Homo sapiens: one gene and its partners. The protein of the gene in region 3 interacts with the protein of the main gene of each other region in a biochemical or structural test. Each region holds a gene or a part of one and is shown on either strand. Other genes may lie near its edges.

Evidence for each region.
Region 1: the proteins of NEK1 (region 3) and SIRPA form a complex in vitro, tested with the Homo sapiens proteins (one large-scale study listed by BioGRID).
Region 2: the proteins of NEK1 (region 3) and PTPRD form a complex in vitro, tested with the Homo sapiens proteins (one study listed by BioGRID and IntAct).
Region 4: of the proteins of NEK1 (region 3) and CFAP410, one has a biochemical effect on the other in vitro, tested with the Homo sapiens proteins (one study listed by BioGRID).

The regions. Positions count from the first base shown.
Region 1 is NC_000020.11:1,919,040-1,923,594, forward strand, and holds part of SIRPA (tyrosine-protein phosphatase non-receptor type substrate 1 isoform 1 precursor), read left to right. Parts: intron 1-2,355; coding exon 2,356-2,673; intron 2,674-3,273; coding exon 3,274-3,606; intron 3,607-4,555. UniProt on the Homo sapiens protein: Immunoglobulin-like cell surface receptor for CD47. Acts as docking protein and induces translocation of PTPN6, PTPN11 and other binding partners from the cytosol to the plasma membrane.
Region 2 is NC_000009.12:10,602,685-10,607,239, reverse strand, and holds part of PTPRD (receptor-type tyrosine-protein phosphatase delta isoform 1 precursor), read left to right. Parts: intron 1-4,555.
Region 3 is NC_000004.12:169,395,282-169,399,836, reverse strand, and holds part of NEK1 (serine/threonine-protein kinase Nek1), read left to right. Parts: intron 1-4,555. UniProt on the Homo sapiens protein: Phosphorylates serines and threonines, but also appears to possess tyrosine kinase activity. Involved in DNA damage checkpoint control and for proper DNA damage repair.
Region 4 is NC_000021.9:44,328,336-44,332,890, reverse strand, and holds the end of CFAP410 (nuclear encoded mitochondrial protein C21orf2), read left to right. Parts: intron 1-876; coding exon 877-1,048; intron 1,049-1,971; coding exon 1,972-2,068; coding exon of another isoform or gene 2,069-2,428; intron 2,429-2,564; coding exon 2,565-2,693; 3' UTR 2,694-3,947; downstream 3,948-4,555. UniProt on the Homo sapiens protein: Plays a role in cilia formation and/or maintenance. Plays a role in the regulation of cell morphology and cytoskeletal organization. Involved in DNA damage repair.

The DNA of each region.
Region 1 (4,555 bases), on a different chromosome or scaffold from region 3:
TAGGGCAGCAGGCGCCTGGCCTGCAGTCAATGTTCAACAGATGTGAGCTGTGTGATGCTGAAGCCATGCAACCTCAGATGGGTTAGTGCTCCTCCAGGCCTCAAGGATAAATGGTCCTTAGGATGTACTCAGGTAGTTTTCAATCTTGGCTGCTCTTTAGGATCATCTGGGAAACATTGAAATAAATCCCAGGCTCCACCACAGAAATGCCTCTTCAATTGGCCTGGCATGGGCCTAGGCATCTAAAGTTTTTAATTAATCCAGAAGATTCTAATACAGAGTCAGGACTGAAAACCCCTGGGATAGACACCCAGAGGTCACGGAGGACAAGTTGGAAAAGATGGTCCTCTTGGGGTGCCAGATGGGAGAACAGCTTTTCAGGGTGTGGATGCTTCTGAACAACGTGCACCCGGGACAGCTCTTTGGAGGCCCCAGTGGCCTGGCCAGACCCCCTCTTATGATACAGGCCTCGGGGGCCAAGGTAGGGGCCCCAGACAAAGCCCTGCTCAGATCCAGCCTCAGTGTGGGGAAACCTTCCATCCTGAAAATGTTTTTGTCTAAATGACCGCCGGAATCCCAGCAAATCCTTCCAATTCGGCCCCAGAACCCTCCCTGCCTCGACACACCAAGATGTCACGGAGGAGTCTGTTCCCTCCTCCTTTAAAATGCTTCCAGCTTCTGTAAATGGCTCTTCTGGAGGGAGGCGCCTGTGATCTTGTGTTTTGAAAGCCAATTCGCCAAACTTGTTTCCTGAGGGGATTGTTTAGAAAAGGGGAGAGAATCCTCACTTGGTGGTTTCTGCTCCTTGTATCATTTGGGTTTGTCATGAGCCACAGGGAGCAGGGTTTGAGCCTTTTCTTGGTGTTTCTGCTCTGCTTTGTTCTGCTGCCTGAAGGATAAATGTGTAGATTCGGAAGCAGTAATGACCAGACCTCCTGATAACAGTCACAGGGGTCATTTATTAAGCACCTGCTGCATACCAGGCTCTGTGCTTGCATTCATCCTCCCTCTTCTTAACAGGGTGGGGTTTGTATCCACTTTTGGCCCTGGGCCTCTCTGAGCTTTGTCCTAAAAGGGGCTCACACGAGGATCCCCTCACAGAGATGGAGTGAGGATTAAAGAGCTGACGGGCATGGAGGGAGCAGCCAGTGTCCAGCTCCAGAGAAGCCCTGGATAAATGGGAACTGATTGCAGCCCCTCAGCCCTGTGGGGACATCCAGGCCGCTGGCCTCAATGACTTGACTTCTTCAAGTGACACCCTCCTTACTGTGCCCTCAAAATGTTTGATGGGTGTGAGGGAGAAGTTAATATTTACAAATGCAAGTATGTGTGATATGTGCTTCCTGGTGACTGCGATAGGAGGTATGGGGTAATGATTAGCAATTTGGAGACACGTTTACGACCCATCTGCAGGGAGAAACAGCCCGCGTTCTGATTCAGCCATGTGTGTGCTTTCAGGACCCAGGAAGTGCTTCTGCCTGCTTGGGCGCCCTGTGTCTGTGTAATTAATTGATAATTAACCACTTTGGCTTTCTCCACACTTGGTGATCTTTAGTGTCTATCTAAAACTGACACCAAAGAAGACCGCAGATTCAGAAAAGTATCCCTTCCTTTCAAATTTAGCACTTGGCACAGATTAGACCCTGCTGGAATATTTGTGGAGAAAATGAAAAATATGAAGTAAATTCATAAATACCTGAAGAGAGAGCTTTGGATATGAATAAAGTCTGGGTTAAAGTTAGATCTGTTTTTGCTTATTTTTGTGAAGCATCTTCTGTGTTTATCCAAAGCAAAACTGCTTCTGTTGCCTCATTTAATCCTCGCTGCATCCCAGAAAGGAGAAATGCTGCTGTTCCATTTTACAGACAAGGAGCTGGGTGTGCCAGGCCGCCCCTCTCATGGGCTGAGCGGCCTGGTTCCAGCTCTCATGGTGATGCCACGTTGCTGCTTACTCCCTGCACTGACCTCTATAAACGCTCTCTCTGAGGTTGGCACTGTTGCCAGGGGAGGCAGGGTAGAAACAGTTAATACCAAGGATGAGATGGATCGTTAATTTTGATCCTGTGCCCAAATTGCTGGAAGTCACCCTGTGTGGAGTGGAGAAGTTTGAACTCAGGCCTGGACTTCCCTCTGGGCCCTGCCCCTACACTGTCTGACCTCACATGGGTCCTCACCTCTCCCAACCTTTGCATCCTGCTCTGTAAAATGACAATAAGGACACCGCCCTCATTAATCCTTCCACATTATTGGAAGGATAAAAAATAATGTCTCAGAAGGTTCTTAACGTGTCACACACTTATCGTTAGTGATTGTCATCTGAGTCATGTCTCCTGATTATCGATGGTCCTTTTGTAGCCAAACCCTCTGCCCCCGTGGTATCGGGCCCTGCGGCGAGGGCCACACCTCAGCACACAGTGAGCTTCACCTGCGAGTCCCACGGCTTCTCACCCAGAGACATCACCCTGAAATGGTTCAAAAATGGGAATGAGCTCTCAGACTTCCAGACCAACGTGGACCCCGTAGGAGAGAGCGTGTCCTACAGCATCCACAGCACAGCCAAGGTGGTGCTGACCCGCGAGGACGTTCACTCTCAAGTCATCTGCGAGGTGGCCCACGTCACCTTGCAGGGGGACCCTCTTCGTGGGACTGCCAACTTGTCTGAGACCATCCGAGGTAGAAGACCCTCACCCAGCCCAAGCCCACACCTGACCGCCAAGCCCACCCCCCACCACCCTCCACTCATCCAGCTCTACTCTTGCTCCAGGGCTTGAAATGCCTGGAACCTAAATTCCTAACTGCCCACCTCCCATGCCCCTAGATGTGCCAGCCACTTACTAACATTTTAATGGCAGTGGCTGGGTGACCACACCACCCACCAGGTGCCAAGGACTGTGCTAGCCGTTTCATTTATTTCACTGATAGCAAACACAGTTAATGAGTACCTACTATGAACTAAGCCTCTATGTGCTTGGTGATTTTCTTTATTTTGCTACAGTTACAACATTCCAACTGCATGCCAGGGGTGGTGCTTATAGATTTCCCTCATTCTTAGCCTAGTAGGAGCTACCAGTCCTTGAGCACCTACTGTGTGCTGGGCGTTGTGCTTAGTAATTTCATTCATATGCAAAGAGCACCCTCAATGTCTGAGCACCTGATGCCTGCCTAGCTCTGTCCTGGTGATGACCTCACCGTGGTGGGGGAGCTACGTTATGGAGCCCTCCCTGTGATCTGTCTGTGCCACAAGGTCAGAGCTTCTGCCCTGTGCTGTTTCAGTTCCACCCACCTTGGAGGTTACTCAACAGCCCGTGAGGGCAGAGAACCAGGTGAATGTCACCTGCCAGGTGAGGAAGTTCTACCCCCAGAGACTACAGCTGACCTGGTTGGAGAATGGAAACGTGTCCCGGACAGAAACGGCCTCAACCGTTACAGAGAACAAGGATGGTACCTACAACTGGATGAGCTGGCTCCTGGTGAATGTATCTGCCCACAGGGATGATGTGAAGCTCACCTGCCAGGTGGAGCATGACGGGCAGCCAGCGGTCAGCAAAAGCCATGACCTGAAGGTCTCAGCCCACCCGAAGGAGCAGGGCTCAAATACCGCCGCTGGTGAGGCCTCTATTTCAGCTGACCCAGCTTTTTTAAACTTTTAGTTTTGTGGGTTTTTTAAATGTTAAAAGTAGTAATTCATGCTTATTATAGAACAATCTAGAAGTCTATAAATATAAAGTAGAATTTTAATGTCAGCTCCATTTCCCCAAATCCCACACTCCAAGAGTCACCACTGGTAAGAGTTTGATGCACATCTTGATAGATCTTTTGACATAGATTTATATCACAGGAGGAAAGAGGGAGAGAGGGGGCCCATCTGTTCATGGTGTCCTGCCTCTTGCCTTCTTCACCTGACAGTTGTCATGCTCCCCATTCCTCACTGGCCCAGCCCCTCTTCCCTACTCTTTCTAGCCCCTGCCTCATCTCCCTGGCTGCCATTGGGAGCCTGCCCCACTGGAAGCCAGGGTGGAGTCATTCAGGGTGTTTGCAGCTTGTCTCACATACAGTCAGTGCTTCAGTGAACATCCTTGTGCATGTTCCATCCCACATGTGACTATTTCTGTGTGATTGCCCAAGGAACACTTTAGGCCAAAATGCATACTCATGTAAGGAGGAGATAATGCTGTCGCTCCCCTGAGAGAGTGTGAGGGTGTCAAGGTATCATTTTCTCAGCCCTTGCAACGTGGTGTTGGTGTACATCTCTTTTGTTTTCAAATGGTGGCACCTGATTGGCATTTCAGTGCAGCCATGGAATATTTCATCACCTGTTATCAATGTGGCTGATGCCCTGTACATAGTAGAACCCTTGAATGGATTAGAATGGAAGCCATTTCTGTCCTTCATGCACCCTTCAGGGAAGCTCTCAAAGACAGCCTTGGGGCTGTGTCAAAGTGGCCCTTTGGTTTCACCAATGCCAGGTTTTCTTAGGATGTGTAGGGCATCGGCCAATGCTGGGTTTTCATAGTACGTGTGGAGCATTGGCCAATGCCGGGTTTTCCTAGGACGT
Region 2 (4,555 bases), on a different chromosome or scaffold from region 3:
AAATACTATATTATAATAAGTAAATATTTTAAATTTGAAATAACCATGAAGCAAAAATATTTTACCTCTATATTCTCAAATACATTTACTTACATTAGATGCTAAAAAGGAAGAGAATAATTTCATATTCGATTATATACATTTCACATGAGATCAGAGATAGCTTAAATTAAATGTGTGTCTTTTCTACTGGGATGCCTTGTATGAATCATTGCATATATAATGCTATCTGATTTACTCTGTAAGGGAACAATTAAAGTATTATGATTAAATACAGAATTCATGAACTTTTGAAATAATTCATTTTTAAGTTTGCAAATATTTACGTAATCAGCTACAGAAGTCTCAATGCATTCATCATATTAGAACTTCTGTGAATTATAGATTTTACAAACTGTCCAAAGTTATAGTTCTCAAATGTAGTTTGTGTTAAAAAGGGGACTCCTTCAGCAGCTACACGAACAGAGAACAAAGCCAGGCAAGCATTGTGTTCACATGCATTTTTTACTACTACCCACATGTAACATGACATACGTATCATAGGAATACTTCCATTCCCTTGTCTGGTTAAATAGTCCTTGCTCAGTTAAGATAAAGGCCTAGATATAGCTTCTTTATACCACATAGAAAATAACCCAAACCTCATATTTTATCTCAAGTTCCAGGAAAGGTTAATTTAGAGCACAGAAACAGAAAAAAAAAAAAAGAAAATAAAGAAGAAGTAATGGAGTGTTTCCTGTTTCTAAAGTGGAACCAGTGTAGGCCACTTACGAAAAACCTGTATTTAGAATTTAGGAAAAATACTCACATAAGCTAGCATCCTTGGGATTTTTTCCCAATAATTGGCCTCAAATCTTTATAATCAAAGTTAGAAATTCTACTCAGTGGAAAAGGATGGAGGGGGTAGAGAATGGTAGAAGGAGTGACTCATTAATCTCACGCTAGAGACAGAATTATTTCATTTCTTATTCTTCACCCAAATGGTTATCAGGATGAAAGATAAATCTTTCACCTTGGGGTTAGGTGGTCATCAGATTTCTAGGGAAGTCTGGCTCACACTTTTATCTTGTCACTTTTCCGTTTTTTTGCTGTTGATAACAATATAACCATCTGGAACCATTGAGAAGGACAGTTTATTCATGAACCATAGTAATTCCTGTTTGATTTTGCTACAGAAATCAAGGATAGGACAATAATTCAGGTACCATATTCACATTATGCACTACTCTTAGAAGTTGCACCCTCTTCTATTTTCAAACTACTTGCAGAGGTTGCACCCTCTTCTATTTTCAAGCTTGTAAATGTTGTCAAGTCAGAATCACTAGTCAGGATTATGCAATATGCATAATACGGCAGCATAAATCATATAATATTATCTAGTCCCAAATATGTATTGAGTCTCCTATGTGTCAAGGAGTGCTGAGTAAAACAGCCATGTGCTAGCAATTTGAAACTACCCAATTGTGACCATCTTATGGTCTTATAAAATGTATCCACGTTATCATAAAATTTTTGATTCCATAGAGAAAAAGGAATCTCTTCCCTAAGGCATTTCTCCCTTTATATCACAGAAAAATTTCCAGATACGTATCTACACTTACCTTATTGTCCTTCTCCTTTGCTGTCATCCTGAGTCACAGCTATTGCTTTTAGAACCTAGGTGGAAGCTGTGTTGCTTATTAGGCAGTTGCAGTCTATGCTGTTTTCCACTGGAATTTCTTGGCACCCTTCATCATCTTCTCACTCCAGTGCTAATTCCTTATGTGTGTTCAACTCTCCAAAGTTCTAGAAAGGCAGTAAAGCATGATAAAAATACGCCGTACTATCCTAATATTGACACAATATAAAAACACAAATAAATCGCCAGACCACTGCAGCAGTTTACAGTCTATGCACCAGTCCCTTATATTTCCAAATTCATAGAATACAATAGCAGTTACAGTCAAGACTCATGTTATTTTCAGCTATAACCAAAGCATAATAGCAGAAGTGCTTTGGTTTTCTCAGGAAAGAGAATAGACAGAGAAAAATGAGGAAATTCTTCCTGTACCTTTTGAGGTGAGATATTCTTATAAGAGGACTTATAATGTGTACTTTGGATCAAATAACCAAAGAGGAAGGCAAAAGTGCAATTTAAATGTTTAGAAATGTAGTGGGATTGTTAGATACTGCTGAAGTTAATAAGTTACCCTAAGTTCACGTCTTGATTTCTCTTAAAAAAAATCATGGAAACATCTATGACTTAAGTTTGAAGAGTTTCCTTTTTTATTCCCCCTGAAAACCTTTATCAAAGTACTACTCAGCAGGAACTTTTGAAAAACAGTGCCAAGATGATATATTGTTTCACCTTCAAAAAACTTTTATACCTGTAAATTTTAAAGCTAAATTATGTGCATCACAAGTATAGAAAAAATATTTCCCATTTGTAATTTCCTATTTTATTATATAATACATTCAATTAGTTCTCAATTAACACTTATCTATGGTACCTGTTTCAATGGACCATGGCTTATAATTTTAGTGTGTAAGAATTCCAGTGGCAACTCCTCTGAATAGATGTATTTATTGTGTGTCATATGTGCTAGCCATTTGTTTTCTCCTAGGAAACATATGTGGTTAGCTCTGAAAGAATAGCTTAGCCTCATCATTTATACCTGTGTGGTTGCAAGCAACAAGGCTTTCTTGCAGTATAATTGTCTCAGGGATTAAGTCTAGTGCTTTATTCTCCCATTTTCCTGCCCCTCAGGAGGATATTCCTTCCTTTTTATTTTTATTTTTTTTAGGGGCTTGAAGTCTTCCTATTTTCCCATACACCTCTCCCACTTGGAAAACATGCCAGGATTTAATAAAACAAATTACACATTCACTAAGACACATTCATACTGGCTTTTTGAAGTATTACATCAGTGCATTCTGAGAGATATTCTGATGGTATTATAGATACAGATATAGATAGCTATTTTAAGAGAAAGGAATTTCAGGCCATATTCAAGAATGCTTTGGTGTGAATCAAATGCTGCTGAATACAGAGATGAAGAAGCTAGGTCAGAATATGGTCAGAATAGGTCAGAATATATGGTCCTCACCATGGCAGGCTTTTCTTTCCTCCATTACTCATCAGTTCTCTTCCTATTTCTGTTTCTATTGCCAAGTTCCCCTCTTCTGCCTATGTTTTTTAACTTCATAGGGAGCTATGGTGACACACAGGAATGACTATGTTGGCCTTATGAACAATTAAAGGGTGTGTTATTAACATTATTAAATAGATTATACTATTGTCTGTATTGTGCATTTCTCTTACAACTCATTCATCCTTCTCATCCATATAATAATCTGCAGCTCATATGTAGTTTATCACTTCTTGTAGTGGGATTAAAAGAAGTATGTAATTACACTTTTTTGTTTCTAAATCAGAGATGGTTTCAAGGTCACTATGATCTTTTTATTCTTCTTGGTTTCTTGAATTTTATCTCTTATATACTGCCTCATGAGTTCTTGAGAAATCTTCAGATAGAAGGTAATAATAATAGCCAACACTTATTGACTGCTTCATATCTGCCAGTCACTATTTTAAGTGCTTTCCATGCATTAACTTATTTATACCCATATCATTCCTGTGAAGTTGGTACAATCATTATCTTTGATTTATAAATGAGAAAACTAAAGCACATAGAGGTTAAGTTGCCTAAAGTTAATAACGTATTTTCCCAGATGTGCATATTAGTACGGAAGGTAAATGCTACAGTTATCTAGATTCTGTACATGAAAAGCAGAAAAAGTGTGAGATTGTGGATCTGCTTTTATAAGACAAATTCTTTCAAATGAAGTGAGCACAAGTTATCATAAGTAAATGATCACAAATGTGAATGCAGGAGGACAGATACTGTAAAAGTGCTGCCCAGGGGAACAAAGAAGCAGAGGGCAAATCATATCAAGGAAAACTAACTCCAGTGTATCTCCTCCCAAAGTTGAGAGTTAAGCGTGGCACAAATGCTTCTGAGTGTATTTTTTTCTTCCTTTGGGATTTCCAATCTGTCAGAAAGAGAACCTGCTGTGCTCTCTGCCTTTCCCTGGGGTGGCCCTTCAAGCTCGGGTCCCTTTTCCTGGGAAGATTAATTCATTCAGTTCCTACCACTCTAACCTCTACAGCCTCTTGGCGTCAGATTTTATGGTATATCAGCTCCTTAAACACCTTGTTGTACTTGATAATCCATGACCAAAAGCCACAATTTTTGAACCAACCAAGAGTTTTGAGTTAGTTCACCTCATATGAGAGGCATGGTGGAATAGCAACGTGGAGGTAGGGAAGATAAGCTCATGGTGGAGTGGAGTGACATTTAGGATCAACAGGGTCCCATCTGCCAGTTACTATAATTCAGAGTATTTTAATGCATGCCCCACATAATAATGAAATGAGACTGTTGTGATTAACTGATGCAAGATAAAATGTAAGGATACTGATTATAATCAGCAAAGAAATGAGTAGGAAGCAGAAAACCAAAAATTGGCCTTCTAAGAGTCATTTTAATTACAATTATTTGTGGTGAACTATGTA
Region 3 (4,555 bases):
CCTGGACAACATAGTGAAACCCTATCTCTACACACAAAAAAATTTTTAATTAGCTAGGCATAGTGGTGGGCACCTCTAGTCCCAGCTACTCAGGGGACTGAGGTGGGAGGATTGCTTGAGCCCAGGAGTTTGAAGCTGCAGTGAGCTGTGATTGTGCTACTGCACTCAGCCTTGGTGACAAAGCCAGACCCTGTCTCAAAAAAGTAAATAAATAAAAATAAAGAAGATTATAACTTAGAATAATTCATTTTTTTTTGTTTTTTTTGAGACAGAGTCTTATTGCCCAGGCTGGAGTGCAGTGTCGTGATCTCGGCTCATTGCAACCTCCACCCCCTGGGCTCAAGTGATTCTCCTGCCTCAGCCTCCCAAATAGCTGGGATTATAGGCGTGCGCCACCACACCTGACTACTTTTTGTATTTTTAGTAGAGACAGGGTTTCACCATGTTGGCCAGGCTGGTCTTGAACTCCTGATCTCAGATGATCCACACACCTCAGCCTCCCAAAGTGCTGGGATTACAAATGTGAGCCACTGCGCCTGGCCCTAGAATAGTTCTTATCAAGGATGTGGTATTAAACGTTTTTTGTGTGTGTGAGATGGAGTCTTGCTCTGTTGTCCAGGCTAGAGTGCAGTGGCACAGTCTCAGCTCACTGCAACCTCTGCCTCCTGGGTTCAAGTGATTCTCCTGCCTCAGCCTCCTGAGTAGCTTGGCCTACAGGTGCTACCATGCCTGGCCAATTTTTGTATTTTTAGTAGAGATGGGGTCTCACCATGTTGGCCAGGCTGGCCTCGAACTCCTGACCTCAAATGATTCACCCCTCCTTGGCCTCCCAAAGTGCTGGGATTACAGGTGTGAGCCACTGCACCTGGCAAAACTTGTAGACACAAAAAGCAATATGTAAAATTTTGAACAAGAATTTATTTCTAGATTATTTGCCCAAACATTAATTTTATTACTTTAAATGTTAAATTCATAGACTAAAATTGAGGGTTTTAAATGTTGATGCTTAATTTTAGCAATAAAAATGTTTATAAAATGTATTTGTATTCCATACAAAATGTGTTTGCATATTCATACAAAAAAGTCTAAGATTGCATTGAAATATATATATGTATATAGTAAGAGAGAAAATTAAGTTTTAAAAAAAAGTTTGGGGAAGTCAACAAATTGGACAAATGAGCACAAGCAGTATAACATGAAGCCAGGAATGAAGAATACAAACTTCATGTTCAAAAGGTTTCCACATTTTCTAAAAACAGGAAACAAATTTGGTGCTGGTCTTTCTCACAAAGCAGAAAACCTAATTAATTACATGAGTCACAGTATTCATGAGACAAAACATTTTAGTTGCTCAGAGGACAGCTATTTTTGGTATTGAAACCAAAGGAACAATTTTCCCATGATCTTTAAAAAGAGGGCACTATCATACAGTGTTCCTCAAACTTGAATAACATGTGGATCCCTTTAAGGAGCAAAAAGTATTTTTTTCAGGCATGAGAATCCAAGGGTCTATAAACCCCAGTAAAAAAAAAAAAACTCAAGTCTTAGTGGTAGAAAATTTCTGTTAGTTGTGAATTATTACTGTAAAACATGTTGTATTTTTCTAAATATTAAAAAATTTTATCAAAATGAAAATATAAAAGGTAAACATTTTCTGGTACTTGTGGATTTCTTATTTTATTGAGACCTTGGACTTCATTTTACAAAACAGTGCTATAATGGAATGAAAAGTATCCTCAGTAATTTTTACAATATTTAGATTTCATGAGGCTGTTTCTCATATGTCATGCTGTAAGTTAATGGCACGAAGCCAGAGGATGATTCCATTTCAGTAATTCTGTAGAGTGTATCAAACCAATTCTATTCATATTCAGACTATTCCACCTCCAGGCGGTTCTCCTTAAGTATTGTTTCAATAGAGCTTTTCATAAGTAATCAGCAACAATGTGCTTGGGGTTCAGTTTTGCTCAACAAGTATCTGGAGAGCTTTTAGTTTGCCTTGCCCCTTAAGTGGAGAGCTGTAACAATCAACTTATTCACAAGGTAGAATTGACACCCTCTTTTGACAACTGAGTGGCTTCAAAAGGATATAAGCCTACACAGAAGGCCATTTCCCCTGCAAAGGACCAAGAATCAGGCTAGGTTAATACACCACTCAGGAAGCAATATCAGATTTTCTCTAGTACACAAATGGAAAGGGAAAGAGAACCCCAGAGTTCTGTATCATAAAGCCTGACAGTAATTCCTTCACCCTAGAAAAAATGTAAAGCAATTGAAGATGCCTACCCTGGCAATCTTTTCTAAAACTCTTAGTACATACCATTACAGCAGGTGTAGCTTAAAAAAAAATTGAGTACAGCCCATAAAATATTGTAACTTGCTACTATAGCTACTAAAGAAACTGGTTATAAAATGGATATTGAATTATGTGGATGACTTGCTGTTTTGTATTGTTAATCATGAGAGTTAAATGAAATGACTAGATATAGATTTCATATTCATTGATTCAGAATAACCGTTTTGCACTCCTTCTTATTGGAAGTCAGTAGAGCCCATATATAGCTGTTCTTTTTGATTTGGGGAGTTTTTTGTTGGGATTTTTTTTTTTCTATGGAGACAGGGCCTTGCTCTGTCACCCAGGTTGGAGTGCAGTGGCATGATCTCAACTCACTGCAACCTCCGCCTCCTGGGCTCAAGCAGTCCTCCCACTTCAGCCTCCTGAGTAACTGGTACTACTGGCGTGAGCTACCATGCCTGACTCATTTTTGTATTTTTTTGGCAGAGATGGCATTTCGCCATGTTGATCTCAAACTCCTGGCCTGAAGCTGTCCTCCCACCTCAGCTTCCCAAAGTGTTAGGATTACAGGTGTGACCCACCGCACCCAGCCTACCTGTCTTAGAGATAGTTGTCCAGACAGCTATCTTTTAGGCCACATCTAGGAGATGGTAAAGCCATGTCATCTACATATGGTACTTACACACTTTTATTTTCTGTGTTGGGGAAAAGGGAGAGTAAAGAAGGGAAGGGGTAAGCAAAATTTTATCTCGCTCACCCGAAAGTGACATCAAGTCATTAAGATACAAGTTAAAAAGAAGATTGTCAAAAACACATTTCTGTTTTATTTCACTGGAAATTATATAAGTCCTGAAAAGACAGCCTCAGCTATTTAACTCTCCTGATACTGTTATGGTGCAGGTTTGGTAAGCGTCAATATCTTCAGCCGTTGATAAAGTTAATGCTTTTTTTTCCATAGCTAGATACTATCCAGAGTCAGAAGTCAAATAGAGCTAATAAAATGTGTAAGCGATTTGATAGTATTCCTAATAAATTCTTCCACAAGGAGAGGAGTATAACAGCTGTGGCCAGTGGCAACCTGGCAGAGGCTACCATGTTCTCACATTGAGTATTAGCATTAGCGGCCCAAGTTTATAGATTCTTCTTTTTTTTTTTTTTTTTTTTTTTTTTTTTTTGAGATGGAGTCTTGCTCTGTCGCCCAGGCTGGAGTACAGTGACATGATCTCGGCTCACTGCAACCTCTGCCTCCCAGGTTCAAGCAATTCTCCTGTCTCACCCTCCCAAGTAGCTGGCATTACAGGCATGTGCCACCACACCCAGCTAATTTTTGTATTTTTAGTAGAGACAGGGTTTCACCATGTTGGCCAGGCTGGTCTCAAACTCCTGACCTCAGGTGATCTGTCTGCCTCGGTCTCCCAAAGTGCTGGGATTACAGGCATGAGCCACTATGCCTGGCCATTATAGACTCTTAAGAAAGAGACACATACCTTCTCTTCATATTCATTTTAGGTGGAATATTGGGCTGCGTTTATGTAATGAAATTGTATACATCGGCTAAAATGAATGAATTAAATTCCGACTGTCAATATGGATAAGCCCCACAAACATGATGAGTTGAATAAGTAGAATATTACACCATTTATGTAGTGTTTCTAAACAATTTTATTTAGATGTGCATGTACGTAATAAAAATAAAAGCAAAAACCATGAGCGGGAAGAATACACATCAATTTCAGAGTACTGAAAATGCCCCTGGGGAAGAAAGGAAGGCAGTAAGATTGAGAAAGGGTACTCTGCATCTGTAATATGGTTTTACTTAAATAATCCAAACCACTATGGCCAAAAGTTAGCTTTTGTTAATTCTACATATTATGGATATGTGTGTTCATTACTTTCCTGATTATTTGAAAAGTAAGTAAATTATAGTCCAGTGATAAGTGTTACCTTGGAAGCAATAAAATGTATGTAAGTTATAAAGTAATGATCCAACTACATTGATGGTGACAGGATAGGTCTTCCTAGGGGAGAGGACATCAAAGTTGGATTCTGAAAGACAAATGGGAATTTAATGCAAATAAGTACTCATACATGGAAGTATGCAAAATGTAGTAGGGAAACTATAAGCAATTCAGTGTTCCTAAAGCATAAATTATAGGGGCAGTTAAGGAAGGTGGGGAATGAAATTTGGTAAGATGAGAAATATTTAAAAGGCCAGATCATGAAGGGCTTTGTAATCCACGTTAAGGAGCGTGGATTCCA
Region 4 (4,555 bases), on a different chromosome or scaffold from region 3:
CTGTTCCCCTGGCTTCTGTGTCTCCTCTTGATCCCGCCACCCGAATGCAGCAGCGCAGCGTAGGGTCCCTCCTGGGACTGACAGTTTGGGTATCCCCCAACGACCGCAGGACCTGGTAGCAAAGCAAAAGGGTTCCTTCTTTTGCTTCTGTGAGTAGCAGCCCTGCTCTGACCATCGCCATGCGCCATGGCGAGCGGGGGCGTCAGTATCTGGCAAGCAGCATCGCACTGGTCCACAGGGACTGGGCAGGCTCCACGGGCCACTGTGAACCTAGGGTGGCGGTGCCATCGCGCCCCTGCCGTGGGGAGGGGCCGTCCCAGCACCGCAGTGCCTGCTGCTGCGCTCCACCTATTGGAGGCACTCGTGCCTCCTCTAGCCAGCGCCAGCACCGACACAGTTTTCCAGGCTGTGGTTTCATGCTGTTTGTTCATCCTTGGCATTCTCAGCACACTAGTGTCTCATCCTTGTCAGGTATACAGACACCACTATTTTCTCCCAGACAATTTTATTGATATTAATAATATAAACTTCAGGGAAATTGATATATGAGAGAAATGGAATAAATTCAATATGGTCTGTTCCTTTTTCTATTGTGTCTTAGTTGAGGTTTTGAGGAGTATTTGCTTCTGGCCAAGGCTGGTGTTGAGATTCCTGAGCAGCCCTCCACCATCTGTTGTGTGTCAGCCTGTGCCAGGCTGGGGATGGGACAGTGAGGAACCGGCTGCTACTCTGGGAGTTGTCCCTGGAGGTGGATACACGTGCATGCATTTCACAAGCAGACTGTGCCTGAAGCCACAGTGAGGACGGGAGCTGCAGTGCATGTGGCCTGCACGTGGGTGAGGCCACTCATGCTGTCTTCTGTCTTTCATCCCAAAGCTGTGACGGAGGAGGAGCTGTCCCGTGCACTGAGTGAGGGAGAGGAGATCACTGCGGCCCCAGAGAGAGAGGGCACAGGCCACGGCGGCCCCAAGCTATGCTGCACACTGAGCTCCCTCAGCTCCGCTGCTGAGACTGGCCGGGACCCGCTGGACAGCGAGGAGGAGGCAACGTGAGGCTGGAGGGCAGCGGGGACTCCGCAGCCCATCCCTGTCCCCCAGGGTCCTCCCACGGGGAGTGAATGGGGCTTCCCGTGAGCTGCGTCTCTGGGAAGTGAGGGACAGGGATTATCCGGGGGGAGTGTCTGTTCTCATCCATATTCTCTGGGAGTGACTCAGTGCCCAGGTAGTGATTTCAGTGGCAGGTCCATGTTTTGCCCAACAGCGGATGTGCCAGGGAGCAGGAGAGGGGGTGAGCCAGGCCCCGTGCCCTGGCACAGAGAAGGCTCACAGCACCAGAGCTCGTGAGGTGCAGGGAGCCCCTGGTGGGGGGGGTGGCCTAGGGCCACAGTGACTGGAATGGTTTGTGGGCACGGCCATCAGTGCCCGTATGGCCTTGGGCCTGGGGGCCGTGGAGGGGCCACAGGGCTGACTCTGCAGTGAGACGCCGGCGCCTCCCAGGGCAGTTGGCAGCGGGTCACGAACGCATTTGACAGAAGCTGGGCACTTCTCTCCTGCTTGGCAGATCACACCCGCTGCTGGTGCCTGTGGTGGGGGCATCGGGATGTGATCTCTGTTAGGCATCTGCCATCCGGCACAGGGCCTGACCCCATGGTCAGGAGCTCTCCCCCGGCATTTGTGTGTTCGGGTGCCCCCCACCCTGCCCCTGAAGCCCTGGGTGGAAGGTGTTACAGCTGGGGAGCCCCAGGGTGCCGGGAGGGCGCCCCACAGGTGAAGTAAGTGCCGGGCTCTCCAGGAGCTGCCATCTGTAGCCCCTGACCTCCCAGGAGTTGCCTCCCTTCTCTTGCCCCCGTGTGCCAGGTGGGATTTGTATGAGCCCCTCCTTTGCTTGGATGCGACCCGCAGACAGGGTTTGCAGAGGCCCCCCCGGTGCCACGAGCCCCCTGACCCTCACACGCCTTTGTCTCCCTCTCAGCAGCGGCGCCCAGGATGAACGTGGCCTGAAGCCGCCTTCCCGGGGCCAGTTTCCTTCCCTCTCAGCCAGGGATGCCTCGAGCAGCCACAGGGGCAGGGTGAGTGGCGGGCCGCTAGGGGCCGCGGCTGCCTCTGCCCACTGCACCCACTGCACAGAAACCGTGGGGAGGGAGCATGGAGCCTCACAGGGCCCCGTGGGGAGGGAGCATGGAGCCTCACAGGGCCTTGAAGAGCTGTGCCCCAGGGGGAGCTGCGTGTGCGGGTCTGTGAATGCGCACACACGTGTAACACGTGCCCCGCACGGAGCCGTCCTGGCCCCTCAGCCTCTCCTGCTGTCCTGGTCTGTGGAATGTGGGCCCGGGCCCTGCTGGGCTGAGGGCAACAGGAGTCACGTGGAAGAGGTGCCACACACGCGTCCACAGGCGGGGCTCCTCTGCTCAGATTCTCCGAGTGTGCCGGTCAGTCACTTGGACGGCCCACACCCCCGGGACCAGTCGCTCCGTGGTGGGGCACCGCTGGCCAGGCCCCAGCCCTTGTGGAGGGAAGCAGCCTCGCCGTGCCGGGTGGGCTTAGTCCGCACCCCTCTGCCCTCAGAACGTCCTGACTGCCATCCTGCTGCTGCTGCGGGAGCTGGATGCAGAGGGGCTGGAGGCCGTGCAGCAGACTGTGGGCAGCCGGCTGCAGGCCCTGCGTGGGGAAGAGGTGCAGGAGCACGCCGAGTGACCGCAGGACCTGAACGCCGCTCCAGCCTCCACGGGGACCCCAGCGTCTTCCCCAGCCCCCGGGAGCTGGAGGGTGGCTGCCATGGCCGCAGCCCCGGCCCCACACAAAAGCCTCCCCGGTTTGCCACATCGGCCGAGGGCAGGAGTGGGTGTTAGGTACTGGCTAACCGGGGCGGTGGAGATGCCTGTCTACACCAGTCCTGTCCCCAGGACTCCCCTTCTGTGGTCTGGAGGTTCTAGGCTGGCCTGGGCTCTTAAAGGGAGGATTTTGCAGGCTGTCCTCCCTAATAAAAGATTTTCCCAAGGTTGATCTGGAGGTGACGTTTCCCAAGGCATGGTTGTGACAGTCTTCCTGAAAGCAAGGGCCGTTTCTCCACAGAATGAGGAGGTCTTCACGGATGGCTTTGCCGATTCCAGCCCTTGGTCCTTGGATAGATTTCTGTTGGGCAAGGGAGACTTCGAGAATGCTGGCACCCATAGCGACATCTGCCCTGAGCTGCTCAGCAGGCAGGCAGCAGCCTCCCGCACCCATGGGAGAGAGTTTTGTTTTCTTGGCCGGGCTGGGCAGGTGCGCCTTCCTTTCTCTCTCCTGTGAAGAACTGCAGGAGGGCCCTCAGCTGTGAGGTTGTGGATGAACAGGCCTGTTCGCCCTGGGGTCCGGGCCTGGCACAGGAAGCAGCTAGACTAGGGGAGTCCTTGGAGCATCTGAGAGGGGTTTTCTTTCCTCTGGGAAGAGTCGCAAGTCTTATGAGGATGCCACAATCTGGGCAGTGACCCGTGGCCCTGGGGACCTTCCTAGTGCCCCCCAAAACCAAGGAAGCATTCACGTGAGATGGGGAGTCAGCCTTCCAGCTGGTGTGTAGGAAAGCCAGGTCCCTGGGCCCTTGTCCCATGTGGGGTTGAGATCCAGATCTCCATGAGATATTCCCATCCTCCGCCGAGCGGTGATGCGTGACCGTGTGTGCAGGCCGCTGTTCTCCCAAGCTCGGGGCCATGCCGTGCCACCGTCACCAGAGCCAGCTGCAGCACTGGGGCAGCCACTGTCGCCGGACTTGGGGAAGCCCAGGGTGAAGACAGTCACTCATCCGTGCAAGCTCTCCAGAAGGGATGCAAGCTCTCCAGAAGGGGTGTGATCTCTGAGCAGTGGGGAGTGGAGTCACCACTCGGGACATAGAGGGTGGACAGTTCAGGCCTGTGTCTGCCTCCTTGGGACTGTGGAGTGGGTGCCCTCAGTAAAGCGCTTTGTTGGAATGGTTGAGGTCGTTTTAAATTGAGTCCCTTCCACTTCCCCCGACATGGGCTGCCGTGGACATGCGGGGCTTACACCAGCGCCCTCCTGCCCCACATCATGCACACCTTGGGTGGGACCTGTGGGGGCAGCTGCCTGCCTTCAGCCCCACGGTTCCCCCTACCCCGTCCCCACCATTGCCGCCTCCTGCCTGTTCCCCTCCCGGCACCTCCTCACCCAATGCACCCAGCCATGGAGGACAGCCAGAAGCACGTCCAGCCCGGGGCACCCCACAGTCCCACTCCACTCCTCCCCAAGTCACCCCAAAAATGGGTTCTCAAGCCGAGCAGCACTGGCATCACACTCTGTCCCATTCACCCAGTTCACAGGAGAGGACCAAGGGCCCAGGAGGTCGCGTCACTCTGCCCGAAATGCCAGAAACGCCAACTCCACGCAGCCAGAAGTGGGCCTGACGCAGGCGCTCGCCACACCACGTCGCCCAGGAGGGAGGCAGCCACTGTCCCGGGCATCAGCCACAGGCGACCACCTGGGTGCAGCAGCTGAGTGGCAGCTGAACAGGTTCTAACACCTCATCAGGCAGGGCAGGCCGAGGGGGTCTACTCAGAACTGAGTCC